2 separate regions of the Homo sapiens genome follow, and region 2 is linked to region 1. Evidence: fine-mapped expression QTL. A gene starts in region 1. The other region holds a variant in brackets. All regions are shown on one strand. Distances are between the middles of the regions.

The links. PIP is the estimated chance that this variant, and not a neighbour inherited with it, causes the effect. A credible set is the group of variants that fine-mapping cannot tell apart.
Region 2: its variant is the best candidate, but not a certain one, in a credible set for the expression of POLR1D in whole blood (TOPMed, PIP 0.55).

Annotation. Positions count from the first base shown.
Region 1 is chr13:27,615,828-27,632,362 of GRCh38, reverse strand. It overlaps POLR1D (RNA polymerase I and III subunit D), which reads right to left and starts at 10,471. Exons shown (of 2, transcript NM_015972.4): 1 at 10,354-10,471; 2 at 8,914-9,488. The coding sequence starts at 10,379. The coding sequence ends at 9,113. LNX2 (ligand of numb-protein X 2) reads left to right here and starts at 11,834. Exons shown (of 10, transcript NM_153371.4): 1 at 11,834-11,988. RefSeq lists silencers at 10,215-10,774, 11,395-12,284 and an enhancer at 11,078-11,806.
Region 2 is chr13:27,642,889-27,659,423 of GRCh38, reverse strand. It overlaps a transcript of POLR1D not described here. Among named protein-coding and RNA genes, the nearest start is that of POLR1D, 29 kb to the right of the region's middle. The variant T/C (reference allele first, on the strand shown) is at 9,113.

The DNA of each region.
Region 1 (16,535 bases):
GCATTGAAAAAACAGCATACCTTGGAATCAAATCCTTTCAATTCCACTTCATGGTACTCAAAACTACAATCCTACCACTTTTTCCCTCCTAGAGTTCTGTGGGGATAAGATCCCAAGGAAAATTCATATCACTCTCCCATACTGCTCTTGCAAAGTAAAAATATCCATCAATCAACTTCAAGTGGGAGATATTCTACCTTTTTAAACCAATAGACAAGACAACAGATGAGGCATGGGATCAAGGTGGTGAAGATAGTAGTGTTAGAGGCTCTTGAGGACACAGAGAAGACAAAAATGAAACAGAATATAAAGCATAACCACCTTTATCAAGGCTCTCTATGATGCTTACTCCTGCCTCCCCTCAGCTCCTCCTCCCACTGAAGCCACAGGATAGGCATGGTTCCTTGTCCCACTCAATAATTTTTTGTCTTCTTGAAGCTTGTTACTGTGGTGGCTTTCTGAGTTGCAAATGTCAGCTGATAAGTGTACAAAATAATGTCATTATAAATCATCAGTCCTTCTTCCTGTTGTGGTACTCATACTCTGACACTGGTATGTAATCATGCACATTATTCATTGACTTTCTGAAGAAACATTAATGAAAGCCTACTGTGTGCCTGACCCAGTTTTAAGTGCTTGGGGTTCAGAAGCGAACAAGGACAAAGCCCTTGCCGCCAAGGAGATATTTTTCAAGTGGAGTTAGACAATAAATAGATAAATATATAATATAATGTCAGTTGACAATGAGTACTATGAAGGAATATAGCAAGGTAAAGGAATAGAGAGTGATGGAGGTTTGTATGTGGGTGTGCATGCCACTTTAGAGAAGGCGGATGGGTAAGCAGCCGCTAAGATGGTGCCAAGGATCCCCACCTCCTGGTATTCAGACCCTCATGTACTCGCTCTCAAGTGTGGGCTGGACTTACTGACTCATGTCTAACCAACAGAATAGAGCAGAGGCAATGGAATGCCACTTCTGAGAGTAGGGCATAAAAAGACTGGCTTCTGTCTTGGGTTCTCTCTAACTCTGTTTTCCTGGCTCTGGCAGGAAGCCAGCTGCCATGGCATGTAGCAGCCCCATATGAGTGAGCTTGTGGGCAAATCGTCTCCCATGCAATCCTCAAGAGTGCAGCCTGGATGACATCTTGACTACAGCCTTGTCAGAGACCCTGAGTCAAAATCACCCAGCTAAGCTCCACCCAGATTCTTGACCCACAGAAACTGAGATGTATTTGTTGCTTTCAGCCACTAAGTTTTGGGATAATCTATTACGCAGCAATGGACTAATACCCAGTCAAGGATGGTCTCTCTGAGCAAACGACTTTGGAAATGGACAGGCCATGTGAAGATTTAGGGGAAGAGAGGTTCGGGAAGTAAAGGGCAAGTGCCAAGGCCCTGAAATGGCAATGTTAGGCTTATATGCATAAAAGTGAGAAGGCCAGCGTGGCAGAGTCACAGGTGATGCTTTGGGTAGACAGCAGGGTGGGGGAGGCGGGCAGCTCATGCAAGCCAGCCAGGAGGGCTCCTATGGATAACATGACACAACCTGTACTATGAAGACCATAAGTTTAACTCCCACTAATTGACTTGAACAACAACCATATATATCAATAGCAATAGCTAATGTTTGAGTATTTAAGTGTACTAGAAATTGTGCTAAGTGTTTTATTTCATTTATTTCTCACAATAGCCCTATGAAGTAGGTGTTACTATCAGCCTAATTTTATAGGTATGAAACTGAGGCTCAGAAAGGTTACATCACTTGCCCACATTCATAAGATAGGAAGTGTGGAGCCAACAGGCCCTCTGACTTCAGAGTCCCTACCCTTCGCCTCTACACAACACTGCCTTGAAAGAGGTCAGCAGAGAAAGAGAAAGTCTCTCCCACCCATGAAAAAAACAAAAAACAAAAATTGTAACCCCAAGCTGTTGTTTAAGCCAACTAGTTCAATCTCTGTGTAATTAGATGCTCCAGGCTGTTGGATTTTCTCTTGGAGTCCTTTTAATAAAATTGGTGGGGGCATTATTCATAATTTTTTTGAGGTTTGACTCCAGTCAGGAAGGTAAAACTTAGAAAAGCACCAAGGTAGCTTTTGTTTTTGAGATATGCTAAGTGCCTTGCATAATGAACAGGGAATATACTGAGAAACAGTACTAGATAAAAAAAATCAGGCTGGCTATTCCAGCACTTTGGGAGCCGGAGGCGGGCGGATCACGAGGTCAGGAGTTCAAGACCAGCCTGTCCAATATGGTGAAACCCCGTCTCTACTAAAAAATACAAAAATTAGCCGGGCCTGGTGGCGGGTGCCTGTAGTCCCAGCTACACAGGAGGCTGAGGCAGAAGAATCTCTTGAACCCAGGAGGCGGAGGTTGCAGTGAGCCAAGATCGCGCCACTGCACTCCAGCCTGGGCAACAGAGTGAGACTCCATCTCAAAAATAAATAAATAAATAAATAAATAAAGTCTTTTTAATGCAGTTTTTACAATCAACTGACCTAGATTGAGCCCTGGCTACCTACCAATAGTCCAGATACCTGGCACCAAGCCAGGTACCCATCTGCTACAGAACTTGCTTTTCCTTCTGCTTAACCTTTATCTTAAAGCTTAAGGATGATTACGAATGTTCCATCAGAATCTTAATTTCTTTTTAAAAAGAGGAGAAACACAATTTGTCTGCGACTTTTCTCTATATCCTATTAATAAGAATGCTATTTTAAAGTATTTTTCTTAAAAGCTATGGGTTTAACAGACTGATAACCTTCCATACAGGGGTCCTCAAATCATATTACAGACTGAAGAAAACAAAAAAATACACAGGCTACTAAGATTTTTTGTTTCAAAGTTTTCACATGAAGGAATATAAACCAACCCAGCTTGCTCAACATCAATGATATTACAATAATAACATTAATAGCTAACATTGATTGAGAGTATGCTTTATGGTTCAGGTACTGTCCTAAGCACTTTGAATATTATCTAAATTAACACTTGTAACATCCCTATATGGTATTATTGTTATCCCAATTTGCAGAAGAAGAAACTCAGGCACAAAGAGATCAAACAGTATGTCCAAGGTCACATGGCTAACGTCTAGAGCCAGGATCAAAACCCAGGCATTGTGAGTCCAACAGCTCTAAATTCCAATGTTATACTGCCTAAGTTTGCTATGCCTATGCTTACTGAAAAGATACCCAAGATTCCACACATATCAATTTCTGTTCCTAAGGAAGGTCTATTTTGGCTGGGCACAGTGGCTCACGCCTATAATCCTAGCACTTTGGGAGGCTGAGATGGGAGGATCACTTGAGTCCAGGAGTTCAAGACCAGCCTGGGCAACATAGTGAGACTGTCTCCACACACAAAAAAACAAAAACAAACAATTAGCCAGGCATGGTGGCACATGCCTGTAGTCTCAGCTGCTCAGGAGGCTGAGGTAGGAGGACTGCTTGAGCCTGGGAGGTCAAGGCTGCAGCGAGTTGAGATTGCACCACTGCATTCCAGCCTTGGTAACAGTGCGACTGTCTCAAAAGAAGAATAAAAAAGTTCAATTAAAATAAGCCCCTCCAATATACATACATGTATCAGCCAATCGAAAACAACTCCAATATCCTACATATCCTCCTTCCCACAGAGTAGTCCAATATTCTTTACTATAATTGTTAGGTAAATACATATACAGATTAAAAACAGATGATATAAATTTAGGCACTAATAAAAGTCACAAACACAAGGCTGAAATATACAATTTATTCCTCTAGAAAGGTTCATAATTTTTCTTTCATTGCTGAATAATCTAAGCTCAGGTTTTTAAAAAAATTCTGGGCTCATTCTCTTTTATCCTTGGTCTCTCTCTTCTTGTATTTCTCTGCTCAAATGTTACCTCCTCAGAAAGGCCTTCCTTAACTATTCAGTGTTTTCTCCTTGTCATCATTAGTTTACTACCTGAAATTAAATGTTTGCATGTTTCTTTATTGTCTAACTCTGCCATCAGAAAATAAACTGCATGTGGGCCAACTTGTTCACTGCCGTATCCTGGCCCCTAAACTGTGCCTCCGTATAGTATGTGCTCAATATTTACAGAGCCAATTAATGAAAACATTCCCTGTAAAGCAAGCAGCTTGGTGAGTGCAGACCGTAAGAGCCAGGCTGTTCACTGCCCTGATCGCCTCTTCTTAACTCTCAATTTTCACATCTGTAGCCCTGGATTCATATCCTTGTAAAATACATGAATTCTTCTGATATGGGTTGGGGAAGGAGGTAAGGGTGGTTGCACCCACTAACTCCCGTTAGTAAGGACAGGCTGGAGAAAAGAAATGATAAATCCTGCCTTACTGGTTTTTGGTTGTGAGGGAATGGTAGGATAAACAAAGGGGTAAATGAACCTGGATATGGGGCCTTTGGGGTCATCTACAACTCTTCTATTACCCCTCTATAGAATCTGTCTCCAAGTTACTTTTTTTGTTTAAGCATTTTTTTTTTGTATCCATCCTTTTATCTCCTCTCTTACAAGTATGCCCTCCTTACATTATACCTGGACTATTACAAATGTCCCCAGTTCACTGCTGTCTTCCAGTTTCCTTCCACTCACCCATTCTGCACACAGGCATGGGACAAAAAAAAAAAAAAAAAAAAAAACTAAAACTTTACGGCAGTTCTAGCTCAAGAATCTTTAACAGCTCTCTTACACTGGAAAAAAGGAAACCATTTATTCCTGTTATTAATCATAAGCCGCCAATTCTTATTTGCCATCTTCACTGGCCAACAGAATGAGTGCTCATGAAAGAATAGATGTTTCAGCAGTGCCTTTCACCCATCCCATTCTGAATTCATCACATAATACTCCACACTGCACATTCGGGCACTTCATTGTCAATACAATTGGTTTTCTTTTTCATGTGTACAGCTCTTGTCTGCCTTCTCCAAAACCACAGAAGGGTTTTCAGGACAGACTCATAGTCTCTTATTTCCACCATTTCTCAGGACTGTGCTACTATTAGGTACATACTTACTGTATAGTTAAATAATTAGAGATCTAATAATCCAAGTTTGAGAAGAATTTCATCATGAGAAAAAAAAAAAAACCAGACCCACGCAGTAACTGTACCAGGATAGTTTATAAAGCAGGAAAAGAAAATAGCAACATTAAGAATTTGAGCAAGAAAAGGCTGGGTTTGGGGGTCTTAATAAGTACTTGAAAGCAGATGGGTAGATTTGGGTAAACTTCCTAAGAGACCAGTTTAAAGGTTGTTACAAAGAATGACTCTAAATTACGCTAACCAAAAAGAAGACTTTTGTCTAGTGATCTGGAGACCATCTAAAATCTGAATAACGTGTTTAAGGGAAACTAAAAGAAGAGTGGGGAGTGGTAGGCCACGGAACTTGATATGCTTTCCTATCTCTTGAGATGCAAGACACTCTTTGGGTCAGTACTGAAGAGACCACTTTGTAGACACCTTTCCATCTCTCGAGATTCTGTGTGAACCTGTGCATTATGCCAACTAATTAGAGTACTTAGATGTTACAGCTATATGCAATTTGTAAATAATTAGCTTGTAAAGTACTTTGAAAATAGAAAGTACCAGCAAGTACTCAGAATTACTACATGTTAAAAGCCTTTGGTATATATTTAATAATCAGCTTTTTAAAAGTCACAGTACTTTACAGCTGAAGAGAATTTCTGATCTTGAATCACTGGCATGAGTTTATTTAGAATGAAATGCTATTGGAGTGCAAATCAGATGCGGATTAACTTTTCACAGGATGTATAAGATTCACATTCATCTCCCTAGTCCTTTTTGGACCAACTCAGCTTTCCCTCAGGTCCCTACAGACTTTATGCAGATTCCTTTCACATATACAAGACTCTTGGTTAACCTGCCTGCCCCCTTCTCAGTTTCTTCCCTCCACCCAACTGCCTTCTGCAGGTGTTTTGTATGAACCCGTGAGTTTATGGTCACCCTAAAGACATTCAAGACTGCATTCTACGTGATCAGTCTAAATTCTTTTAGGTGCAATGAAGTTGTGATGTGGTGAGCGGTCGCCTCTGGCTGTGTTTCCCACTGTACTTCATCTACTATCATCAGTCTGTACCTTGATGTCCACTAATTAAACTTTGTTTTCATCTCCTGACAGGCCTTGGTTTAGAGGAATTAAACTCCAGGTAAGTAATTCTGTTTACTATCCCCACAGGCAAAGTTTTGGGAGAGGAAAAAAGTTTTTAATCCTTTTCCACATCCTTTTTGAGCTTCCTTTTATCTTCAAAGGCTAATGCCCTTAAACAAACATTGACTTTCCAGAATTTCTTACTGTCACCATAAGAGAATATGCTGTATCCTTGCCCTATGACATCCCTGCTCCCGCCTAAACTCACCTCTTCCAATGTCTTCATGTGATTCTTTTATTGGAAAACCAAACTAAGCCATTCCTCTGTATAATGAGTGGTAATGTTTACTCTTCTTAGGCAGTAAACTAATGCTGTTACTGCCTAGTGACCTCCACGTTAACTCCAGGTGACATTTTTCTATTCCCTATTTGAAACCCTTGGCTTCCACACCCTATTTTTGCACTTTCCTACCATTACATTGACCCAAACTTACAAATACTCTTATCTTTAACTCTTCTTTGACCCAAACTTTAAATACTGAAGTTGCCTAGGGCTTTGTTCTGGGCCCACTTCTTTGTCACCCTCTATTTTTTTTTTTTTAATCAATTTATGTCATCTTTATGGCAAGGACTCATAAAATTTGTCTCCAGCTTAGATCTCTTCCACGATCTCCAACTCACATAGCCACTGCTTACAATGTTCACAAATGAAACTTTTGACTCCTATCATCTTTTCCACCTCCCAATCTATTTTCCATTTTAAGCTTCCCAATTTCAGTAATTGGCCCCAAAGCTAGGCAGTAGTCATCTTTGATTCTTCATCTTCCACAGTTCCTGAAGTGTACCAATTCTGTGCCAATTCAATTCTAAAATATACCTCAAACCTACCTTCTCTTCTCCATCACTAGCTTCTACCCTTCCAGGCCACTTCAACTCTTTATAGTGTCTCTCTCTGCTTCTACTCCAGCCTCCCTATAATTCATCTCCCCCCACTCTGTAATCAAAGTAAAGAAGACGTCATTCCCACTGAACCTAAAATCCAAAATCCCTACTACCCCAACTCTTCCTCCCATGGACTCCAGAGGACAGGCCCTTCTCCTTGTCTACTGTGCTACAAAAACATGCAAATCTTTGTTCAATATCTTCAGTTCCTCATGCCACCAGTTTTCTGCTTTAGGACCTTTGCACATGCTATACCCCCAGAATGCATTTTCTCTCCTCTTTGCACAGCCAGCTCTCTCCCTTCCTGTAATCTCTAGAACACCTTTCCTAACTTCCGTGCCTAAAGTAGATTCCTTTCTTATGTTTTCTATCTTGACCCTACATTTGCTGCTTTTACAGAATTACAAGTTTTTAATTTTATATATTTTTTTGAGACAAGGTCTCCCTCTGTCACCCAGGCTGGAGTGCAATGGTGTGATCATGGCTCATTGCAGCCTCAACCTCCTAGGTTCAAGATATCCTCTCGCCTCAGCTTCCCAAGCAGCTGGGACTACAGGCATGTGTCACCATGCCTGGCTACCTTTTTTATTTTTTTGTAGAGACAGGGACTCCCCATGTTGCCCAGGCTTGTCTCAAACTCCTGGGCTCAAGTGATCCTCCCACCTTGGCTTCCCAGGTGTGAGCCACCATGCCGAGCCTCACAATTTTTTTTTAAGGGGCTCTTATAACACATGCTTTATGAGAACAGGACTTACTCTGTCTCATCCACTATAGCTATATATCTATCCCCAAGGCCTGGAACATACTAGTGCTCAAAAATATGGATATCTCTTTAAAGAATTTGGCTGAGTGTAGGAAATGTAGGCTCTATGGCACGCTAGTGTAAGAGGTCAGGTTTGAGTGACTGAAAAGCTGCATGCCATAACTACTTACATGAATTCATAGAGTATTTACTAAGTGTCCACTACCTGTCAGGTGTTCCAGGTACCAGAATCATGTTGACCTCCAAGTTGGTTTAGTGGGTAAACAAGATAAGCACTACCAATAGCATAGTAAATGCCAAGGCCAGGAAACACAGGGTGTAATGAAAGCACAAAGAAGTACCCAAACTAGGCTGAGAGGCCTGACACATAAGCTTTGACTTAAGAGTACGGCAGGAGTAAGACTGGCCCAGGAAGAGGGGATAGATAAACAAGGGCCCAAAGCACAGAGCACTGGCGGGTGGGATATGTGTTTTCCAAAACAGTCATTTCCCCTATATGGAATTTTCCTTCTCCTTGGCTTTACCTTCTCTCAAATAGGGCTTCTTCTACATTACCCTAGGCTATACCTACTTAAGGACTGAAAATGTTTTCTAGTCATCCCAATTTTCTCCTTCTGTAATATAATCAAAACATCTTACCTTACTTAGATCATGACTAAGTATATCCCAAAATTCAAGCAGTAAACTGGTATCTTTCCTGTAAATGCCTCAAAGATGGAGCCTTACTCCCTAAAACTCTCATGTAAAACCAGAATTCTCACACTTCTTCCAAATTATTCCCACCCTTGCCAAGTCTACCAATCACAGCAAATGATGCAATTCTTTAAAAGCCAAAAAGTTTAGCAAGAAGCCAAGTCCCCACCCCAATCTTCTTTCCTTCTGTTTTTAAACAACAATCTAACTGGGGTCATGGTTTTTGTCTCTTCCCTTACCCCCACCACTCCAACTACAGACATGGATATATACTTCTTTTAATTCCCATGATCACAGTTCTTGTCTAGGCCTCTGATATTCTCAGTTTCCTCATTTTCAATGCTGGCTTAATTAGAAAAAAAGTCATCCTCAAGGACCATTTGGTTGCATGGAACAGAAACCAGTCAAACTAGTTTAAATAAAAGAGGGAATTTATTAGAAGAATACAGAGGTTCTTGCAGAGATTCCAACAGCTGCAAGGGGTCAACAGCTAGAATCACGCCTTTCTGAAGGACAGAGTATGCTGTAACCACAAACTTCTAATTCTGGGTTCTGCACCATCAGGAAGAGAATATCCTACAGGACAGTTCTCCTTGTATACTGCATAAAGGACTAGAATGTGGATTCATTTCTGCTTGCTTTTTGATCCTTATAGTCCTTTATGCTGGCCTCAAACTTGTCAAGCACATGTTGGCAGACATTCATGAGCTCATTCAGGCCTCTCTGAAATGGCTCAACAGCTGGAAGGGTACCTCGAGTCTGAATGCGTAAATTAATTTTGCTCTCTGAAGGATGGGTCGTAGTGTAACCACAAAATTCCACTTCCGGGTTCTTCATGATCATGTAACGTAGAGAATTTCCTAGGGTATGGTCTTCCTCGTGCAATACAAATGTCACACAGTGTCTATCTGTTCCAGCTGCCTGGACCATTTCCAGGGCTGTCTTCCTCTCGCCTTCAGCCATTGAGGTCTTCAATCCAGATATTTTTCTACACACATATTTTTTATAAAAATGAGATCATACTGAATATTGTTTTGTAACTAGCTTTTTCTCATTTACTATATCACATTGCAACACATTATTATTAATCTACTCCAGCTACACAGAATTATTCGCCTCTCATTTTCCTGCCTCCACAAACTCTATCAATAAATATTTAATTTATTGCCTCCAGTTTTTCCCTGCTCCATTTGACCATCCACACTGGCCACAAGGGGAGTTTTCTTAGAAAAACACAAACTTAAGTGTTTGCAAAAATATTTTTTGGTAGAGTCACAAGCAAGGGATAGGATTAGAATAGGACTGGTCCTGCTAGAGGATGAAGAGAGGGTTGAAAGGCATAGAAATCCCGATTGCTCTAGTATAAAAATAGAGGATACAGATGATCAATGTGCAGGCCCAACTACGGCTTCCATTTTGCAAGAGAAGGAAACTAGGAGAATGGAAGGTTCAGGAGTCAAGCAGCAGGGAGAAAAAGAGCTCAGCGCACAGAGTGGCTTTAGGAGCAGTCTGCACATAGAAAGAAGGTGAGCCGTAGTTACAGGGACAGAGGCACGAGTACCGTCCTCAGGAGCAGAGGCCCGGGGCGTGATTTTTACACACTGCTGTTGTAACGGGGGTGGGCAGTTCGGATACTTAACTCTGGTCTCCCAACTTGTCTTCCCTCCTTGATAGCTAGTGTACCTCTCAGCCTCTCAACTGAAACACATTCATGTCTCCTCCCCACTTCTCTCTCCATGCTTCTTCTCTGCGCCCCGAGTCAGGCCCCGGCTGCCAGGCCAGGCAGCGTGCCCCTCGGCCACCCGCTCCCCTTGGGCGCGGCCCGCTCCGCCCGCCTCCTCCTCGGCCGTTACCTCTCCAGCTCCTGATCCTCTTCCATCGCTGGGGCGGTTTCTGGATCCTCAGGTGGTGCTGGCGGATCGGGGGCTCTGTCCCATAGCGCGAGGCGCGGAGGCGAAGCAGGAAGCAAGGACCGACCGACGGAAGGCGCGGAGGACGGAAGGAGGGAGGAGGAGCCGCAGCGGCGCGGCAGGGCCCAGCCGCGGGGCGGGGCATGAGGCTCCACCCCCAGCCCCCGCCCCGACGCGGGGTGAGCGGTGGCTCGCGGCCCCGCGGCTCACCTGGGCGACCACGCGAGGCCACTCGCGGCGGGAGGGGCAGGGGGCGGGGCCAGCGCCGCCTTACCCCGAGGCCCAGACAGGCCTGCGGGCGCCCCGGCTCAACTCTGGTACCTTTCCCCAGGTGATGGCGAAGGGGCGCGGCCTTACCTGCCGCCCCCAAATCACTTCCCTTCCCAGTGGCAAGTCCGAAAGCGGCCCGACTTCCCAACTGGGGCGGTGTTGACCCAGGATGGCCCTTCCTGGGACCCCGGCCCTCCCGGGCCTTTTGTGGGACGACAGGCTTAAACTGTAGTCGGTCAACACACCTTGAAGAGGGAGGGGGGTCACGTGCGAGATGAGTCACCACAGAATACGAAGGTTGAAGGCGGTATTTGTTTCACCGGGGAGCTTGCAGTTGCATTTTCAACTGGGTCAAAATAGGGCAAGAAAGAAATGTCTCTTTTGGGGGAGTGAGAGTTTGGGAGAAAACTGTTTCCCACCTTATCCTTTCCGTCCTAGGATTCCTTCTACCCCCAGAGCGCGTCCTCTCCGGCTGTAGACTTCCTTTTCCCTTTCTCCCCAGTGGCTCCTCAAACCTCCTCACCTGCGGAACCCGCCCTCACCTTTGTTCCCAGGCGCCCAGCCCCCGCCTCGGCAACCTTTCGCCGCCCAGGCTCGCTCTCCATCCAGCTCCCTGCGTCCCGGCCTTCGCTGTGCTCCCTCAGGTGCGCTTCCTCTCGAATCGGCCCTTCTTGTCCCCTCGCCGCTGGCCCCGACCCTGCCCGACTCCAGCTGTCCAGCGCAACTACGTTTCTGCTTCCCTGCGCCACCTGTTCTCCTGGCCTCCCCCCACCCCGCCCCGCGATTCCTCTGGATGTTCACTCCTTCCCCAGCTGTGCCACTCTTGGCGGCGGCCGGGGGTGCGCGCAGACACCTAGCCAGCGGGGCTTCCGCAGGGGAATCAGGCGGGCGGCGGGGACAGCCCGGGGCGAGTGGGGGAGGCGGGCGGCGAGGGCGGAGTGGTCTCACTCTAACCCGGGAGTGACGGGTCCCTTCTGGCCCGCCTCCCGAGCTCTCGGATAGGTGGAGCCGCCCTCTGGTCCGCCCACCTCCCGCCCTGTGCTACCTCCGATTGGCCCGGGTGCGGGTTGGGCCGCTCGGCCTTGGCGCTGCCCCCGGGAAGGCAGCAGGGGCGGTTGAGAAGTGAAGTCTTGGCCGGAGTTTGCTTTTTGCCAGGAAATCCGCGGCGGCGGCGGCGGCGGCGGCGATTCCTGGCGGAGCGGAGCCGGGCAGGCTCTCCGCTCCCTCAGCGGGCCGCGGAGAGCGGGAGCTGGTGCCGAGCAGCGGCGCCAGGAGCCCGTGCGCGGCCCGGGCAGCCGCGCTTTCCCAGTGAGTAACTTTGCCCTGCCCGCCTCGCTGCGCGCCCTCTCGCTGGCTGCGGGCAGCCGCCTCAGGTGCGGGCGTCAGCTGGGTGTGGGTCAGCGCCGCGCCCCGGGAGGCGGCCGGAGCGGCGCCACAGCTCGCCCCGGAGCCTTGGTCCTTCGCGGCTGTCTTCGCTCGCCCGGGCTGCGGGGCTGGCGTGGACTCGGGTGTGGGTCTGGTCCAGGAGGGAGAGTCGGCGCCCGGTGCCCGCCGCCTGCAGGCGCCCGGGAGGCGGGCGGCCTCCGGCTGTTAGCGTTTGCTGGTTCCGGCCACCGTGGTGCAGAGCTTGGCGTCGTTTGCTTCTTAAGGGAAGGGAGAGGTGGGGTGAGTGTTTAAATTTCCTCTGTGTGTGTGTGGTGTCGGCAATGAGAGTGGCACTAGCTGCCTTTATCGGGTTTTGTTCTCTGGAAAGGGATGGGGAGAGATCATTCCCTCCGCCCCAGCCTGTTGCCTGTGAATTCTCACCTTTCTCTTTAGGCTGGAGAGGGTGGGAGAGAGATTTGACATCTTCCAGGGGGTAATTTAAAAATATGAATCTTGATTTGGAAGCAGTTGCACACAAAGCATCATTCAGGAAATACATCACTCGCTTTTCAAAGCTGTATGCCACGTTTTAAACAAGGACTTTTGACTCATGTAGTGTTTCTTTTAGTATTTCAGTTTACGTTAAGTTTATGAATCCAGACGTTCGTTTGTACCAGGAGCTAAAGTACACTTATGCATGGGCTTTGCTGTGTATATTATGCTTTTTAAAATCACAGAAATCAGAAACAAAGTTGAGTGAAAAGCGGTGGCGGTGCAGGAGGAGGAACACTTGTGAGCTCCAGCTTATTGGAACTGCCTTTAAGAATTTCACATTCTTGCGGCAATAGTACTTACTTGTAAATTGGCCTTCTTCCCAGGACAGGTTTTGATATTTCTTTTGCATGTACTTCGATGCAGCACTAATGAAGTTGGATCTCAGTAGATCAATTTTATTTACTTTGCTAGATTTGATTCCCACCCCCACACCTCTTTAGAAAATGGACTTTGGCAGGTAAAGAAGGAAGCGGGAATCTGGTATCCTTTTTGGCTTGTCAAAGCTTTGTTGAGCCATGAATAACAAAGTTTTGGCTTTTTAGCTTGTCCGAGTCCCACATGTGAGTTTTCCCATGGGGTAAAAGTAGGCCAAATGAGAACCAAAGTAGAATAACATCACTTTTAATTCGGCCCACTTGTGTGTTACATTCTCCATATATCTTGTTTCTCTCATCAACTTTGAAATTTTTTCATTATTTATTCATTTAGCCACTGATAAAGTACCTACTGCATGCCAGCCATTGATGGCGGGGGTTGCTTCTTGCCCAGTTTTCTCATTTGGAAACTGATCCATGCCTTTATCCCACTAGTTACCCTGAAGTAATTTGAACTTAGGGAGCATTTCTGCCTGGAGACCTGTAAGAATAGGTGTTACGTAGGCACTTAGTCTTCAGATTGGTTTGGGATTTCGTACATTGTAGGCACGTAGCACGCAGGCCACTTAAAAATAAATGTATGTGTCTTTGGGCTGTTGTATTACGAGCTTTGCATATGGGCTTGTCTGGCCGAAGGACCCAGTGTCCGAGGTGGAGGTAGTAGTCAGGGACATGTATTATTCATTTCAGAACACTTGGCACCTTTTCTTGCTTACATTGGGCACTAAAATATTTACTGAATTGACTTGAACAGAAAAATGAAGGATTTTTTATACCAGATTAAGAAATTTGGACTTTATCCAGTCAGTGATACTGAGCTGCTAATTTTAAGCAGGAGAATGTCATGATAACGGGTAAGCATTCCAGAAAGATATCTGCAGCGTCTGGAGGATGGTGGGCTTCCAGATGGGCGATATGGAGACTAAGTTGGAGGCTGTTCTAATGGAGGGGTTAAGTGCTCAGGGATTCTCTATTCAGATTACCTGGGGTGGAATCAGGCTCTGTCATACACTGAAACCTCTTTGTTCCTTAGGTTTGTCATCTCAGAGTTTGGGGGATAGAACTTGAAAAAACATGTCTATTACTTAGAATAGTGATTGCCAGATAGTAAGGACTTAGTAAATGCTAGTGTGCTGGCAGTGGAAGGAGAAATGACGTGGTGTTTAAGAGGTATGACTAGGAGGCTGGACTAGGTAAGTGACTGGGTAGGCTTAAGGAGGGAAGGATGAATCCTGGGTTGTTTGACTTCAGGCATTGATTGACATGTACTGGGTAAGCTGGCTGTGAAATTAAAACGGGTCAAATTCTAATTCTATTACTTACCCTTAGAATAACTATCCTGACAGAACTTTGATTTCCTAACATTTGGGAAATGATTGTCGTACCTGTTGAGTAGGGTTTGAGGAATTATGCATGTAATGCCTTTGGCAGGGTACCTAGCACATTCCAAGTGCTCAGTAAATATTAGTTGTTCCTTTAGATGATGACATTAATGAGCTAGTGGAATGTTGGAGGATATGAGAAGGAGCAGTTAAAAACAATTGATGGTAGAGGTGTAGAAGGGAAGATAAGTTCAGTTTTGGACTAATCTAAGGAGGTGCTAAATGGATGGTTGAGAGATCCATGATGCAGTTGTTGGATAGTTGTGTCTCACAGGAGCTAGGAAAGAATAGAAAAGAAAAAGAGTTCACAGAAAGGCTTTATGAGTATGGTAAGCTTTATGAGAGATTTAGAGGAAGGGGAGGGTGAAGGGGTTCACAGTGGAGCGATATCAGAAGTGTTGACATTGAATATTAGGCATTTCTATCCTTAAAATATATTTTGGCCACCATCAAAGAAAGGAGGACTCCAGGCTCTTGTAATCTGGTTGGCTCTTTGGCCTTCTTCCCCTCTTCTTTCTTTCCTTTACAATTGCCACCCGATATCTTTAAATTGTATTATGAGGAACTATTTAACTTTCCTTCCTGCTTACAGGGCTAGAGTTCACAGGCCCACCTTCCTCTATCCAAATGCATCTAGGTTTTTAAAAAAGAATCACAGGTCTCATTTCATAGGTTCTCCTCTATTTAGGAAGCAGTGTTGTTTGAAAAAGTAATACATATGTATCTTGCATGTAGAATTAGAAGACTGGGGCAGGCCTACCTAAATTGACCCTGTAGGAGGGCCTGAGAGTCTTACAAAAGACATCCCTTTTAGCTTTCCTGGCACCTGTTTCTTTTCCTCAGAAAATACAAAGCAGTAGGAAAATCTGTGGTTAATAAGTTATTTTGTTTGGTTGGATTCAGAAAAGGTGGCTATTTTGTGTATTAGCCTTCTAAGAAGTTATTAAGAGGAATTTTTTGGCCAGGTGCAGTGACTCACGCTTATAATTCTAGCACTTTGGGAGGCTGAGGCGGGCGATCACGAGGTCAGGAGTTCAAGACCAGCCTGGCCAACACAGTGAAACCCTGTCTCTACTAAAAATACGAAAATTAGCTGGGCGTGGTGGCAGGTGCCTGTAATCCCAGCTACTCAGGAGGCTGAGGCAGGAGAAATCGCTTGAACCCGGGAGCTAGAGGTTTCAGTGAGCTGAGATTGCGCCACTGCGCTCCAGCCTGGGTGATAGAGCTAGACTCCATCTCAAAAAAGGAATTTTTTAACAAGCAAGTGCTCATGACATTACAATAATAAATTGTCCTCTAGTTAGTATGCTTTTAAAGAAGCAGGTGTTGTAGGTTCTATCCTTTAGAATGTGTGCTTCCTAGAGCTGGGATCCTATCTATTTTGCTAACTGCAGAATCCCTAAGTACTTAAACAAATATTAATGTATTGTAAACCAAAAATAAAATTCTAAGCTTCCCCCTCTCCCCAGCCATCTGAATGGACTTCCTCCTCATCCAGGGGTCTTTTAAAATTTAACCTGAGAGACAGTTTCAGGCCATGAGTGGGAAGTGGAGGTCGGACATGACTTGTTATACCTCTCTGACATTAACATTAACATAGACTTTAAGTCCGATAAGAAACGTTTTACTACCACCTATCGAAGCCTACTACCTGAAGGCTTCCTCTGAAAGTAAGAACTTGGGTCTCCACAATCCTTTGTCTTAACCCAGACATTCCTTTCTGTTGATCCCAGGGCTTTAGACAAACTCAACCGACTGTCAACCAGAAAATGTTTAAATTTACCTATGGCTTGGAATGGCACTCCCTGCTACCCCCCCCAACCCCCCACCCCACCCCCGACCCCCTGCAATTGTCCCACCTTTCTGGACCAAACCAATGTATTTCTTAAAATTTTTTGATTGATGTCTCATGCCTCCCTAAAATGTATAAAACCAAGCTGCACCCCTACCATCTTGGGCACATGTTCTTAGGACCTCCTGAAGGCTGTGTCATGGGCCATGGTCACTCAGATTTGGCTCACGATAAATCTCTTCAAATATGTTGCAGAGTTTGACTCTTTTTGTTGACAGCATGCATTAATGAACAAATTGGATCCAAATTGGCTTTGATCTGGCTTGGCTCACAGACTTCTCCAAATCTTTGAAACAGTCATTGGTCAGAGGGAAAGCAAAAGAGAAT
Region 2 (16,535 bases), 27 kb before region 1:
TCTGTGGCCTGAAAATATTGCCAAGAGCCTCCTCCACGAATCGTCTGAGATGTGAGCCCTTGCTCCCCTCCTCATTGGTTCTAACACAGTCAGTGTGGCATGCCACACTGTGATCACTTGATGCTTGTTTCTGTATCCACCAGGGGATTAAAAACTTTAAGGCCAGGAAAGTGAGTCTTCTTTACTGCTGTCCATGATCAGCCTCTTAACATACCTGCTGGTGCCCTGTGAATATTTATATAAATAAATAAACACATGTCTGGATAAAGACTGGAGAAATTATTTAGTTTCCAATAATCAACAGTTGATGACATAAACTGGAAGAACAAGATGGGTGACTTCCTTCCATATCTCTAGATTGACTCTCAATCCAAACAGAAAAGCATAAAAAAAAGTCATTCCCCTTAAAACAATTGGGTTAAGAGAACTCAAGAATCATTTTCTCTCAATTCAACCTTTAGGATTTATTTTGCCAAAATATAAGCTTTTCCAAGTATAAGGCTGAAGTTCCACAGGCACTAGACTCAGAAATTATATTGGGCAGTAGATAAGCTAAAGTGAATGTGACCAGAATTAAAACAGCTTTGTAGACAATGAAGCTGGGCAAATTTCTGAAATTTATGCTTATAAATTCCTTTATGTTGACTAAAAGGAAGTCATATGAGCCAATATTTCAGCTTCTCCTAAAGCATCTGTCAACAACAGCTTCTAAAGAGATTCTTTTGCTGAAATACATCCAAGGAAGAATATAGCACCAAATGGTCTCTTTCTTTATAAAATAAAAAATGGCATCCCACTTGCATTTTCTTTAGATCAGCAATCTCTCTCTGGCAACTGCTCAACCATCTATTTCTTATGGAATATCCAAAATGAAAAAAATAATACCACTCACTCTAGTTCTATTTTAAATTTTAAAGCAAATAAAAGGTCTTCTAGATACTTAGAAAAAAACAGGCCATGGCCACTAGTGAACAACAGATTGCTACTCTTTTAAGAACTGTCCAAGAAGTCCACTCCACAGCGATGGGTCTTGGGACTCTTGTGGCTGAACACCTGGCCAGGCTACCTAAGTGCTATTTCAGTGCAGAGGAGCTGTCTGCCTCTGGCCGAGGTGTAGGATTGTTCTGGATTCTGCAGAGCAGGCTGGTATCATTCTTTTTAATAAAACAAAAGGGACTAGTAAAATGTTTTTCAAATTTGTGTTCACTTTAGAATCACCCGGGTAGCTCTTTAAAACTCCAAAGCCCAGGCCACACCCCAAGTTCATAATCACTGATAGTGGGGCACAGGCATCAGTATTTTTTGAAGCTTTCCAGGTGATTCCAAATGTGCAGATAAATTTGAGAACTAATGACTAGTGGTTAAAAGTTTCTCACATACACTTATTTAAATAAATGGAAACCAGGTGATCTTCCAGAACGAGCAGATGAAGGGCAGGTGCCCTTTGTCCCAGCACTAGTGAGTAGAAGCAAGCCACGGTTGTCATGGGTCCAGACCTCCTTTCATAGCCCATATCTGTTTGGGTGTGCTGAACTGCTGGACTGAACTCTGGCTAGGAAAAAACAGTTGCCCCTGGAATAAGCAAGTACCCAGAGATTCCTGCTTCCAGAGCAACACAGATCAAGAATCAAAATGTGAACATTATGAGAGAGATAGAGAAAAATGCAGATAAACTTTTTATTTTTAATGAAGTGAAGTCTTCTATGGGATTGACTTGCTCAATTGTTCAGAGCAGTGCTTCCCAAACTTGATTGATGAGATCTTCTAGTAAGCTTAAAAAACTAACAAACAAACAAAAAACCTGTAGGACCGATCTTAGACTTCTCTATCAGAATGCCCTAGAGTGAGGCAGGGAAGGAGATGTGTATTTTTATTTTTTATTCATTTTTTATTTTTTTGAGATGGAGTCTTGCTCCGTCGCCCAGGCTGGAGTGCAGTGGCGCAATCTTGGCTCACTGCAACCTCCGCCTCCTAGGTTCAAGTGATTCTCCTGCCTCAGCCTCCTGAGTAACTGGGAACACAGGCGCCACCATGCCCAGCTGATTTTTTGTATTTTAGTAGAGATGGGGTTTCACTGTGTTGCCCAGGCTGCTCTTGAACTCCTGAGCTCGGGCAATCCACCTGCCTCGGCCTCCCAAAGTGCTAGGATTACTGGTGTGAGCCACAGCGCCTGGCTGGAGATCTGTATTTTTAAAAACCTCTCCAGATTATTTTCTAATTAAAAAAACTCTGTTAAAAAGTGATAAATAGAAGACATATTTGTTATATATTACTGTAACAGAGCCCCTGGTAGAGGGTTACAATGGATAGCATTCCCTGCTTCTCATGCTCCCCTTAGTGCTCACTGTTAGGAGGCCTAACTTCTCACAGACCTTTATGCGTTACGGGGTCCCATGGCCTTCCCTGACCTGGCCAATAGAGGATTACATGCATTGATCCACAACTCAGGTTTTCACATACATAGTAGATATTTTCTCACAAGGATTCATATAGTGCTGACCAATTCTTTTTAGTGACTGTAAAATATTCAACAGTAGGATGTACCACAGTTTATTTAAGCATTTTCCTATCTATGGACATTTGGACTGCTTCCCTTTTTTTACTATCAAAATGTGCTACAATAATTCTGTACTTAGGTCTGCACACATTTATTAAGTTCTATGAAAGAGGGATTACTGGGAGCAGAGATCCTGGGTAAAGGGGCACAGAGAACTGTGACTCAACATTTTGCCCATGGCCCTGCACAGAGCAAACCACACCACTGCCTGAAGCACAACACTGCACCCCTTTCCACATCCCTTCATCTCCACTGGATTACTGCCTCTTTCATTTCTGCCAATCTAATGGTGAAATTTAAGTGCTATTTAAGAGGAATATAAATACCTATGCATGCACTCCCACCCCCATTAGATTATAAATTCCAAGAGAGCAGGAATCTTTGTCATTCTGTTTACAGATACATGAGTGTCAAAATAGCAGAGCCTAGCTCTGCTAAGTACTCAATAAATGTGTTAGTATGTTTACTTACTGGCCATTTGTAGTTTTGATATATACACATACACATACACAGACACAGACACACACAGATATGGTTTTCTTTTTATAAACTGATTTGTAGAAGCTTTTTCAATACTTAGAGTATTAGTCCTTTGTCTGTTATATATGGCAAATAATTTCAACCAGTCTACCACTTGTCTTTTCACAAGTTAACTTTTTGTATGGTATCTTTTTCTATGTAGAAGTTTACTATTATTATGACATGGTTGAATCTGCCATTGTCTCATTCATAGCTTCTAGGTTTTGTGCCTGGCTGAGGGAGGTTTCTACCTTATCCTTGCCAATATTATAAAAATATTATCCTGTATTTTCTCCTATAAGATTCATATTTTGTATGTTTAGTTTTTAATTTTCAGTATTACAGATGAATAGTCAACTGTATCAGCATCACTTACTAAATAATCCACCCTTTCTCCACTAGTATGAACAATGACCTTTTTCCACACAGTTAGTTCATACACATATGTCGGTCTCCATTCTTTTTTTTGTTTTCTTTCCTTCTCCACTCCCTTCCTTCCTCCTGCCTCTTTCTTCCCCCAGTCTCTATTCTTGATTCTCTATTCTCTCACTAATGTCTTTAGTCTTACACGAATCTCATACTAATTACTATAAATTTACATACTATTATTATATTGAGCATGCAATATTCTCATCTCATTCCTCCCAAAAATATCTTAGCTGAAAAATTGCACCTTTATAATGGAGAGATCTGGTAGTCACCAGCTTTATCAAGGGCAACCTGACATTAAGTCCTCCTGATCTGTTGTAATTAAGACGTATAAAAACATCACCTGTGTAATATTCCTTCCTGTCAAACAAGTTTGACCTGAATCTAATCAAGAAAACATAATAAGGCAAATCCAGTATGTGGAACATTTTTGCCTGGATCCTGAATCTGCATCCCAAACAAAAGGCAACCACTATAAAAGACATTTTTGGGATGTTAGATGATGATATGAAATTATACATTAATTTCATTGATATGGTAATTACAATGTGGTTATGCATGAGAATGTCTTTGAGATCTGCATGCTGAAGAATTTAGGGCTGAAGTATCAAGATGCCTACAATTAATTTTCACATGGTTCAGCCAAGAATTATATGTTTGTGTATTACATGTAAATATACTATACCACACAATCATAGATAATCAAACAATGTCCTTTTTTCTCATTATATTTTCTAGTGGGCTATTGACTGTATAAGGAATTGATTTTGAATGTTTATCTTGTGCTAAACCACTATGGGTAGACATCCTATCTTCAACAAATGACCCTTTGTCTCCTTTTTTCTCCTCCTAGTTATTTTCCTTGTTTTGCTGTATTTGCTTGCTGGCACCTATCTAAAGCAGCAGTTCTCACCATGTGACCCGTGAACCCTGAGAGTCCTCCAGACTCATGAGGCAATCTACAAAGTCAAAGCTATTTCCATAGTTTTGATATAATTTGCTTTTCTCCAGAAGGTTGACATTTGCACTGATGGTGCAAAAGCAACAAGTAAAACAGTGGCAAGAAACAAGGCAGTGATGAAAAACTGTACCAGTGGTCATTGTACTCTTTACCACCATGCACTTCCAGTTAAAAATGGCCAGTTTTACTTGAGAATGTCCTTGATGAAGCAGTGCAAATTATTAATTTTGTTAAATTTTTACCCTTGAGCATCAGTCTTTTTAATAATGTATGTGTATAAACGGGACATACATACAAAGCACTCTGGTACTTGAGATTATGATGGAGGCCTCAAGGAAAAGTACTTGTGTGACTGAATGGCAAAGTGAACTAGCTGGTTATTCAGATGTGGGTGGGCCTGTCACTTCTAGGAAAACAACTCCCAGTATTCATTGCCAATATATAACTGGAGCTTCCAGATGAAAGAAAATTAGAATTTTGGCAAACTGTGAACTTGACAGGTTCCCTTGACACTTAAAAGACTGATCTGATGAGATTGGTGATGATATTTACAAATGTGATTTTAAAAATATTATATAATGACACGTGTCAACATTTGGAAGCTTCATAACTCAGTGAACCAATATTTTCCAGATGACCAATGATGATGTTACAAAATCAAGAATAAGTAGAAGATCCAGCCAAGGTACAAGGATATTATATAAAGGGCTTTTACTGTAATAGGATAGGAAAAGTACACATTATTAAAAAGAATATTACGAAATTACTACTTGAAGTTACTTGCAAAGTTCTGATGTAGTATCAAAGAAGAATATCTACAGTCTTCTGAAAAAGTTATTGAAATAGAGCTAAAATCACGCAATTTACAAGTGAGTAAGAAAATATCAATCATAGTTCTTGCTCTGTAAGGAGCGTTCAAGGGGCTTGGTTGTTTCTTGCCAGCTCTCCAGATAGACATCATTTATCCTGACAACTTTAGTATCACCTACTGGCTTTGTTAAACTTTCTGATATGTATTTCCTTTTGAAAATACATATCTTTGTAAGGTAGTATTTTCTTCACATACTTCAGCCAAAATAACACATTACAATAGATCGAATTCAGAAGCAGATATAAGAACCCAGGTGTCTTCTATAAGCCAGACATCAAAGAGGTTTCCAAAATTACTGTACTCAATGCATTTTGTTTTGCAAATATAGTTATTTTTCTTATAAATGTTATTTATCTTAATGTATTTGATTTATTATTTAAAAATGAATAAATACTTAAAAATTGCCCAGCTTTAATTTTAAACATTGGTATTGATAGATATAACCCACATAAACAAAAGCTCTTTGGGGTTCTCAATAACGTAAGAGTGCAAGTATCCTAAGATGTTTGAGAACCACTGTTCCAAGACAATTGAGATAACCAAGTAACAATCCCAGCAGGAATTCGTGTCTTTCAGACTCATGGGAAAGTGTAATTTCACATCCTAGTCTCCCACGGGATCCACCTCTTACAATCTGGAGTATCTTACTTTGCCTGCCATCTTTTATTTACTCCCTTTTCAACATGCTTTTTCCCTATACCTGGGAAGAAGCTGCTAGTTGTCCCTCAATATCTGCTCTTTCTTTTTTCTGTAGTCAAAGAACCCCAGATACTTATCTGCCACGCAACTGCCTATGAAAAAAAAGATGAAATTTCTGTCCTTGCAGCTAGATGTAGACATCAGACTAAATTCTGGCCAATGGGGTACATGAAGAAATGGTAAATACAGGCCGGGCACGGTGGCTCACGCCTGCAATCCTAGCACTTTGGGAGGCCAAGGCAGGCGATCACTAGGTCAGGAGTTCCAGACCAGCCTGGCCAAGATGGTGAAACCCGATCTCTACTAAAAAAAAATACAAACATTAGTCAGGCATGGTGGTGGGCACCTGTAATCCCAGCTACTCGGGAGGCTGAGGCAGAGAATTGCTTGCACCAGGGAGGCAGAGGTTGCAGTGAGCTGAGATCCAGCGACAGAGCAAGACTCCGTCTCAAAAAAAAAAAAAAAAAAAAAAAAAAGAAATGGTAAATGCAACTTCTGGCAAGTTTTCTTTTTTTTTTTTTGAGATGGAGTCTCACTGTGTCCCCCAGGCTGGAGTGCAGTGGTGTGATCTCGGCTTACTGTAACCTCCCTCTTGCAGGTTCAAGTGATTCTCCTGCCTCAGCCTGAGTAGCTGGGATTACAGACGTGTGCCAGCACATCTGGCTAATTTTTGTATTTTTAGTAGAGATGGGATTTCACCATGTTGGCGAGGCTGGTCTCAAACTCCTGACTCAAGTGATCCGCCCACCTCGGCCTCCCAAAGTGCTGGGATTATAGGCGTGAGCCACAGCGCCCAGTCATGGCAAGTTTTCTTAAAGGAAAGGGGTGTGCCTTCCTTTCTGCTAACTGAAATGTGGACTCAGTGTCTGTTACTATATTAGACTATGTAGAAAAGAGTCATACCCTATGATTGGGAGATTTGGAAAACTGGAAGGAGCCTGGGTCCCCAGTAACTCTGTGTAACTACCAACCTAACCAGTGTTATTCCTAAAGAGTACATCAATGCCCACACAAATCTCAAGACAGTCTGGTGCACATGGTAACTTTCCCCAGGGAGAGCAGAACTAGCACTGATACACTAGTTCTTTTACTATCAGAAAGTTTTATGAAGCCAGTAGGTGGTACTAAAGTTGTCAGGATAAATGATGTCTATCTGGAGAGCTGGCAAGAAACAACCAATCCCCTTGAACGCTCCTTACAGAGCAAGAACTATAATTGATATTTTCTTACTCACTTGTAAATTGCATGATTTTAACTCTATGCTGAGTCTTTCTAATAGGTATTAGATTGGACCAATGATTACTGACAGCCTGATGAAGGTACAGCCTTATATCCGAAACCAAAGCACCCTGTGCCTAAATAGTTTATACTAATCTGACTCACAATAGTAGAGGCACCTTATTTCTGTAAAGCACAGAGGAGGGCTGGAAAGAAGAGCAGATTTAACTAATATTTACTAACTAACTGCTACATGCCAGGAACCATGCTGGGTGTTTTCATACACATTATCTCACCAGATTTTCACTATCATCCTCCCACTTTTCCCATGAGTCTATAAGACAATAATTCCTGCTGGCATTCTTATTTTTTTCAATTGTCTTATAATAGTGGTTCTCAAACTTTGTGGTCTTAGGGTACTTTACACTCACACTCCTAAAAATGATTGTGGACACCCCAAAGAGCTTTTGTTTATGTGGGTTACATCTATTAATATAAATATTCAAAATTAAAGCTGAGCATTTTTTTCAGTATTCACTTTAAAATAATATATCTATTATTTACTAGGTATTTTACTGAAGCTAAGATGATTACACTTGATAGATACAGGTTGACTCACATTGGATTATTTCATTATATAATTTCATCCATAAATATATCAGAATACATTTCTAAAAGATAATGGCTTTTAAAAATTAAAATAACAGCAATACTATCACACCTAAAAAATCAACATCAGTTCCTTAATATCATCAAATACCCTCAATTGTTGAATAACTTTTTACAGTTAGTTTGGATAAAGACACAAACAAGGTACCCATTTTATTTGATGTTCCTCAAATCTATTAATTCACAGCATACTCTTCTTTCTTTTCTCCTTGCAATTCATTTGTTAAAGAAACTGGGTTCTTTGTCCTGTAGCATTTCTCACATTTTGGATTTTTGTGATTGCAGCCTTATGGTGTCATTTAACATGTTTCTCTGCCCTCTGTATTTCTTGCAAACTAGTAGTTCTAACTAGAGACTTGATCAGATTCAGGTTCAATTTTTTGACAAGGATGCCCCAGAGGTGGTGGTTTGCTCTTCTTGCATCTTTCTGTGGTATAAGGGTTAATGAATGTGTTGAAACTCAAATGATGATAATATTATTCTATAATCCTTCTAATATATTAGTTACAATTCTTCTGTAAAGTTTTCTTTCATCAATTAATTGGTGACTTTGAAGTATAATTTGTACAGGGAACAGGGTAAATGCTTACTTCTTCCTATTTATCAGTTTTGTGAATAGTGATTTGGTGCTCTAGCATCCTATAAAAGGGACTACCAGGTTTGTTATTATGATTATCATTATGACCTTACAGATTTTAACATATTTTAGGTGTTTTAATCATTTATTTGTTTTTTAAATCAAATTATATCATCTTTGACTAGTGGGAGACCTTTCAAGTGGGTCCTGAGTCTTTCTGAAATGAGTACATTGGTCTTTGACAGTTTCTTTGCTTTCTGGTGTGACAAGATTTTCCAGCTTCTCTTATACATTTCCTGCCCATGTAGTCAAGAGTTTGGTTTGGCCCAAAGAGAGGGCTGGCCTTTGCCTTAGCTTCCAGAAAGTAATGTCATAGAAATGTCTTTGTTTAGGGTGGAGCTGGTCACACCTAAGAGTCTTAGAGTGGGAGCTGGCCATGCCAGAGAGACTAACATGTGACTTAGGGTGAGAGCTTTGGGTTACGTGGTATCAGTCAACCTGGAAACTGAGATCAGTCATGTAATCCATCCATCCATCCATCCATCCATCAATCAAACCTATGTAATGAAACCTCAATAAAAACTTTGAACACTGAGGCTCAGGTGAGCTTCC[T/C]TGCTTGGCAATATTCCATGCCTATTATCACACACTGATGCTGGGAGGGTAGCATATCATGACTTCAAACCTATTTAATGAAACCGCAATAAAAACTTTGAATGCTGAGCCGCAGATGAGCTTCCTTGCTTGGCAATATTCCATGCTTATTATCACACACTGATGCTGGGAGGGTAGCATGTCCTCTTCACGGAGCAGAGGATAACAGTGGCTTTAATCTTTGTGTCTTATTTTGGCTGATTTTAGTTTGTATCTTGTCCCTGTAATAAGCTGTAACCACAAGTATAACAGATTTCAGTTAATTGTGTGAGTTCTTCCAGTGAATTATTGAAGCTAAGCGTGGTAGTTTGGGGGAACCCTCTGAACTTGTGGTTGGTAATAAGAAGTAAGGATAGTCTTGGGGACTGTGACCTCTAATTTTGCAGTTTGGCTAACTCTGGGCACTGCTTCAGGTCTGCAATCAGTTCTTACTCTAAGGATTCCGCTCTCCTTTCAGTGAGAAATGGTATTTACATAACACAGTTTTGGCACCGGGGTGCTCACTGCTACTGGGTGGGTGGTCATTGTTTCTAGACCTTTTCTGTGAAGAGAACTAGAAAAAGCTTTTCTCTCTCCCTCTCTTTTTTAAGAGAAAATCTAGCACAACCTCATACTGATGTTTCCAATTCAAATTTAGGATTATAGGTAGGTTTTTATTTCTTTGATTTTATATTTGTAGCTCTTTAAAATTTTCATGTTAAATCTTGGTATTTATATATAGAAAGTATTGCTTGTTTTATCCTACTATATAATATTTTCAGAATAGCAATACCAATATTATTACTAACAATATGATGACTGAAAACAATTTCTTTGTAGTTATTTTTTATCTTTTGGAAATATAGTCAAATTCCAGATCACCTGAAATAGTTTCTTTCCATGTAGCTAAGCCATCCACTCAATGGTTTATCAGGTCCATGTTTTATTTTGCTTGATTTTTAGGTATTATCTTTTCCATTTTAATTTTTGTCTTGGAATTTAGGTGAACTATGTGCATGGTTCTAAATGTCAAAATTACAAAATGAGCTATGTTCAGAAGTTTAGCTTCTACTCTTTTCACATTTTTACATTTTACTCTTTTTAATGACCCTCCTTATTCCATTGCAGTACGTTTTTAACTGTAGATATAAATTCCAGAATCAACAAATTCATCAAATGCAAATGGCATCACTAAAGTAGTGCCTAGAAGGGTGTTTTTTTTGGTTTGTTTTGTAGAGATGAAGTCTCACTATGTTGCCCAAGCTATTCTCAAACTCTTGGGCTCAAACAATACTCCCACCTTGGCCTCCCAAAGTGCTGGGATGACAGGCATAAGCCATTGTGCCCAGCCCATATTATTAAGTTTTAACAAGCTCTATTTTGTACATAATCTGCAAAGGTAATCTTTAATTCTACATGGCTGAATTGTCACATAATCAAAATGCTTACAGTTAAAATTAATTTCCTAAAATAAATTTTAATTTACTAAGGACTATAAGTAAACTAGAAATTCTTAAACAATGAACACCAACATAATATTACTCTTGCACAGGTGACTTTGCGCACAGTAGTATCTAAATACCTCTTGGAGACTTGTGAACTAAAGGGACAATGAACCTATACTGCGTATCCTCCATAGGCGCCTGCTGCCCATTTCTTCATGTTATTAGAGTTTCTCAACATTCAGTTCTCAGCAGTGTCTTACTCTACACTTGTCTCTGAGAGATTTCCTCTGCTTCCATGGTTTCCCATTTCCTCTATATGCTAAAGATTTACATATTTATATCTCCAGCTAAGAATTTTTTCTTAAGTTTTAAGGAAGATTACTCAAAGAACTTACCAACCCATGGGTCCCATTGTTTCAGCTCTAGTTTTCCCACGTTTTGCCTCCTTAAGCAGTTCTTCTATTGCTTTCCTGATAAGAAAAAGGAAAAGATTTGAGAGGCAGTCACCCTACTAAGTTCTGAAAATCAATTCATTCCAGGTCCATGATCTTGGGAAAGGAACTAACTTTTGAAGCATGATTGCTGGGGCAAATTTTTTTTTAAATGGTTGACAATTTTGAACACATAAATTAAAAAGAAACTATTAATATAAAGAGAAGCAACATTGAAGAGAAAAAAATTACAAACTGGAAAAATATTTTTGATATGAGACAGTTAAATCATATATCCTTAATATAAGAATTATCTTTTCTTATTAATTTGAATAACCAAAAGACATGAACAGCCAAATATGTATATATCTATATTTTTTCAAATTCACTGTTATTCAAAGAAATACCAGTGAACTCAACAAGGATAAATGTTTCTGCCCATTAGTTAGTGAGGGGGTAGAGAAATGGATAACTTCTTCTCTACTAATGGGGACTGAAGCTGATATTACATTTCTGGAGGACAATCCAGCAACATAATAAAGAACCTTAAGAATAGTATATACCAGTTGATCTAAAAATTTTTTACTTTGTCCTATGAAAATATTCAAATAAGTATGGAAAAGTATATGTACAAGGATATTCAAACTACTTGTTAACAATTAAAGAAAAAACAGAAAACTTAAATATTTACTGATAAAGGATTGGTTAAATAAATCATAACATATCCACATATGTGGAAGATTAGGCAGTCATTAAAAATGAAGACAAATGAATTTTTGGCACAGGACACTCATAACATATTCAGTATATAAAGCTGGTACAAAAGAATATGTGTAGAATAACCTTAATTTCAAATTTATTTACATATATATTACATAGAAAAACATTTGGAGACGGCTAGGTGTGGTGGCTTATGCCTGTAATCCCAGTACTTTGGGAGGGTGAGGTGAGAGGATCACCTGAAGCCAGGAGTTTGAGACCAGCCTGGGCAACATAGCAAGACCTGGTCTCTAAAAAAAATAAAAATAATAATAATAAAAAAATTTGGAGGGATGTTATCAAAACAGTAAGATGAGTTTTAAGGTGATTTTTTCTGTTTGCATTGCTGCATTTTCTATTTTTTCTACAATGAACATGTATTATTTGTGTAATTTTTGAAGAGGTTAAAAAAACAGAAAACATATTTATCAACCATATTCTGAGACTTTACTATGTGTAAGATACTGTGCAAGGTGCTATGGGTAGCAACATAGGAAGATGATCGTCCCTGACTTGAATATGATGTATCAATAACAAAGTTAAGAAAAAATAAAGTTAAGAAAAAGAGAGGTATAAACAAATATAGTCCAAAACAAATATAGTCCAAAGACAGAACTATAAATCTAATCATGAATTTTTGAAGCTGGATAATTATATAGAGTCTATATTAAAATGTTATGACACTATTATAATGCTACCATATACTATATAATCTTCAAATGATATTAACATTCTGTTTACAAGAATGTTTTATTTCATGTTGATTTTTATCAAAGTAAAGCATGCACATAGTTTAAAAAGACAAATATTATTTAAAAGATTTTAAATACAACAGTCTTCTAAATTATCCTGCCCTACCCACCAAAGAAAACAATTTCAACTTTTTTCATCTGTTTCTCGTTATTTACCTCCATATTCCTAATACTATGCTTTCAAACTATTTCACCACCTCTTAATCTTCAAAAATACATCTGCTTATTTTTGTGTAACTCATTTTAAAATAAACTCTTATTGAGATCTTTAAAAGATGTCTTTTCAGTTAACTCAGCAGCTTGACATTTTCTGATCCTTCTTGGGAAGGCCCACTGCTACAGATCAATGAAAAACTAAAGCGCTTGCCTATCTACTGACATGTTGACTCCCTCAATCACAAGTTTCGCAGCCCAACCTCTTATGGAATCACAAAGAGGTAAGTTCATCTGATGACCACATATGCTGCTTCTTCCAGCTCTTTAGAATAATGATATGGCCTGCTGAAATGATCTGGGGACTTTGTCTCTTACAGTTCAAGCAAAATTTATCCTAATAAGGTCCAAAACAGATTGTTTTTCACCCTTATAGATTTAAGTAAAAAAATTAAAGGGTATAAATATTCCAAATATGCCTCTTCCTTTCCCATAAATTAGTGTGGTAGTTTTAAAATAAAAAGATAAATCATACCTAGATCCACCTATGTGCTCTCCTTCTGTCAAAAGAAATGGTTAAAAATAATCAGGAAAACAACTTTTTGGGGCAGTTCCCCAATTATGAACAAAATATGTATCAGTTACAAATAAACTAGAATGTGTTTTCCCATAAAAACTATGTTAAAATGTTTGCCTAGCTTTCTGGACCAGACTATAGAAACTTATTTGAGTCAGAATCCAGCTGAAATGCTATACATCTGCAGAAGATACTCAGTAAAGATTCTTGCAGAGACCCTGAAGGCATATTCTAGGTGCTTTCAAGAGCTTGAAGTTTGACAGTGACTCTTCTTTAGTTTCGATTCTACTTAAAACTGTCTCTAGCACTGTTATTAATTTTACCTGGCACGCTTAAGGATGCCTTCTGGTTTACGAGTACAAAGAGAAAAGAAGATATATGTATGAGAAAGACTGCCTGCGGTGAAACAAATTCACCAAGGATGGAGGACCATAAAAGGAGGAGTAGATACTGGGTGGGAGGGCACTCAGTCAGCTTGTCTACCGTGTTCCCACTGGTAAAGGGGGCTTAGCTGCTGTTCACAGCCAAAGTGGTGCAGCGTGACCCATTCCCATGGTTCGGATCTACCCAAGTTAGGTATCTGCAATTGGTTTAACAACAACTAATGAAGATATAGAGCTTTAAGTATACCAAGTACTATTCTATATAACCATGATAACATAGTTATTACCACCAATACAGATGTGGAAAGTGATATTCAGAGACATCGACTAACTTGCCCAAAGTAACACTGCTAACGATCAAGGAGAAGGGCAATGAGGAAGAGGAACAAAGCAAACAAAACCCAACCTCTGTTTTTAAGGCTAGGTATCATCTGATCCTTCTATTAGACTATCTCCTCCACAAATATCTGCGCAGCAAATCCTGGAGAAATTGTTTATCATTAAAAGGCAAAAAATAAACTAAATGGGGAAAAAAAAGGCCTAACAGAGTGCCACTACTGCATTCATTCAAAGAGAACTGGGGGATAGGCTGATACTGGAGAGGCGGAAGGAATGAAGGAGGACTGATCACTATTTTGTCCTAAGAATGTTGAGCATTCGCTACTTCCCACCCAAAAGTCTCCTGCATAAGCTCCCTCTACAGAGCTTTACTTCCAAAGAAGAAAACAATTCTTAGCAATCAAGTATCCCAACCTTAAAACACTATAACTACCTTCAAAATTAAGGGGAGAAAGTCAGCAACTTCCCCATTACTGTAGCCTCTGTTGTTTCCTCTAGAAATCTCATTAATGAATTATTGGGTAAGGAAATTATAAATCCAGTTTCTATTCTACATGATCACAGGGGCAAAATAACTTAAATTATCAAAGATTATGAAACATTAACATGCATGAAACAAGATAGTTTTTAATGAGGTGATGAAAGAAGTATAAACTGTAATTAAAATACAGGAAAAGCAAATAGGAGAATATATAAGAACTAAGTATATACAGAACTTGAACAATTAAAAAATTATTCAGACATAAACTTAGTTCTTGGTATGCTAGTTTTTACACTTGGTTCTTTTCAATATCTTGAAGGTTTCTTTGTAAAACTAATTAATTATATTAGAATACTAAGTTCCATGGAGACCCAAGAGAGCTGAGTCATTAAGCAGACGGTTTTCTGGGCACAGGAACAAACCACAATCAATTTTCAATGATCCATGTGTGTATTATCTCCAGCCAATTTTCCATACTAGCACAGCTTCCTCAGGCCTGCCTGTTCACTCCATTAGCCAGCTGGTACATGCTTAAGGAATGTCAACTGATCATAATAGCAGCTTAAATAAAACCCAAGTAGGAATGCAAATCTGGTACAAAATCATCTTAAAATCCAAAGTCAAACAAATTAGTTTTGAGTTATCTGGGTCTGTTTCTTTTTAATCACTTTAATCAACTGAGGGTTAACTGTTCCAGTGTACAGAAGGGGTAGCAAGAAATTGAAGGCAACTGAAATAAAGCACCAGAAATTGAGAGGAAAATTAAATAATAAAGTAGGAAAACAGGAATTTTAAAGGAATAAAATCAGAGAAGCTAAATCTCAAATAACTGCTCAAAAATGATGGAGTCAGCCAGAGGGAACTATAGGCCTCTTCCTGTGATGGTGAAGGAAAGCTAGGAACACAAGGCTGAACGTTAGAAGCTTTCCTCATTTGTGTCTCTCTCAGTCTTTAAAAGTCACCTTTGATCAGCTAGCTGTATAGTACAGTATCTGTCACATGATGGACAGAAAAACAGGTTCAAAAAAGGCAATACATTGCTTAATAAGACTACTCTCTTCTTGATGTGTTCAAACAAGCATGACTTGGTGACAAGAATACAGACTTCTTAGAAAATTGGCAGAAATGAGTACAGCATCATTTGCTGCTGTTGACTGGGAAGTTATCTAAAAGGCCCAACACATTATCAGTGCTGAAGGCAAACATGTTTATACTTGTGGAGTCGTCCACATACGTGTAAAAGAAACCTTACTATGGCAATCTAAATTTCTTCCCATAATGGAATGATAAAGCTTAGAGAGAAAAATGGAACTATCTACTCGATCTTCAGTAAAGTTTTGATGTCAGGTCATTGATTAAAAAAATATAGACAGATGATCAGATCACTCTGAACATCTGCAAACCACTGCTTATAGGTTCACACTGCCAGTAGTAACTAGTGGTTTAGTAGTCATAGGGATCTGTAGAAACCACAGGACAAAGTTTGGGTTCTTTATGACTTAGTGTTTTGACTACAGACACAGGCAAAAATTCAGAAATATCCTTATTTAATTTCAGTAAAATATCAGATTGTCTGGGGTCATGTATCAGCTCTAAAGAAAGGTACAAAAATTCAAATTGTGAAAAGCGTTTTTAAAGACAAGGTAAAACTCAATAGGAACACTGAGGTTATTTGGGAAATGAAAAGACTTATTCACAGACATAAACTAAAGGCACAATAAATTAATCTGCACATTTTGTTAAATTCAGCTAATCTACATTACGCACTTGCTAAATACAAGGTACTGTGATTTATACGGTGAATTAGGCTCTTCCCTGAAGAGGCTATTAGGGCCTGCATATAAAATAAAGAGCCATATATGTACTTTAAAAACAAATACTGGATTATCTAGGAGAATGTGAGGAGGGAGCTCCAATATTCATTTATAAAATAACAAACAGAAAGTCATGAGAAAAGGTGCTGAATTTTTAAGAAGAACTTATGCTGGTAAAAGACTGGAAGGTGATGGAGGAACATGAGTTTGAAAGGAAAATTAATGAGATCCTTTGTTGATTTCATGCCCAACATGAACTAAAGAGATAGAT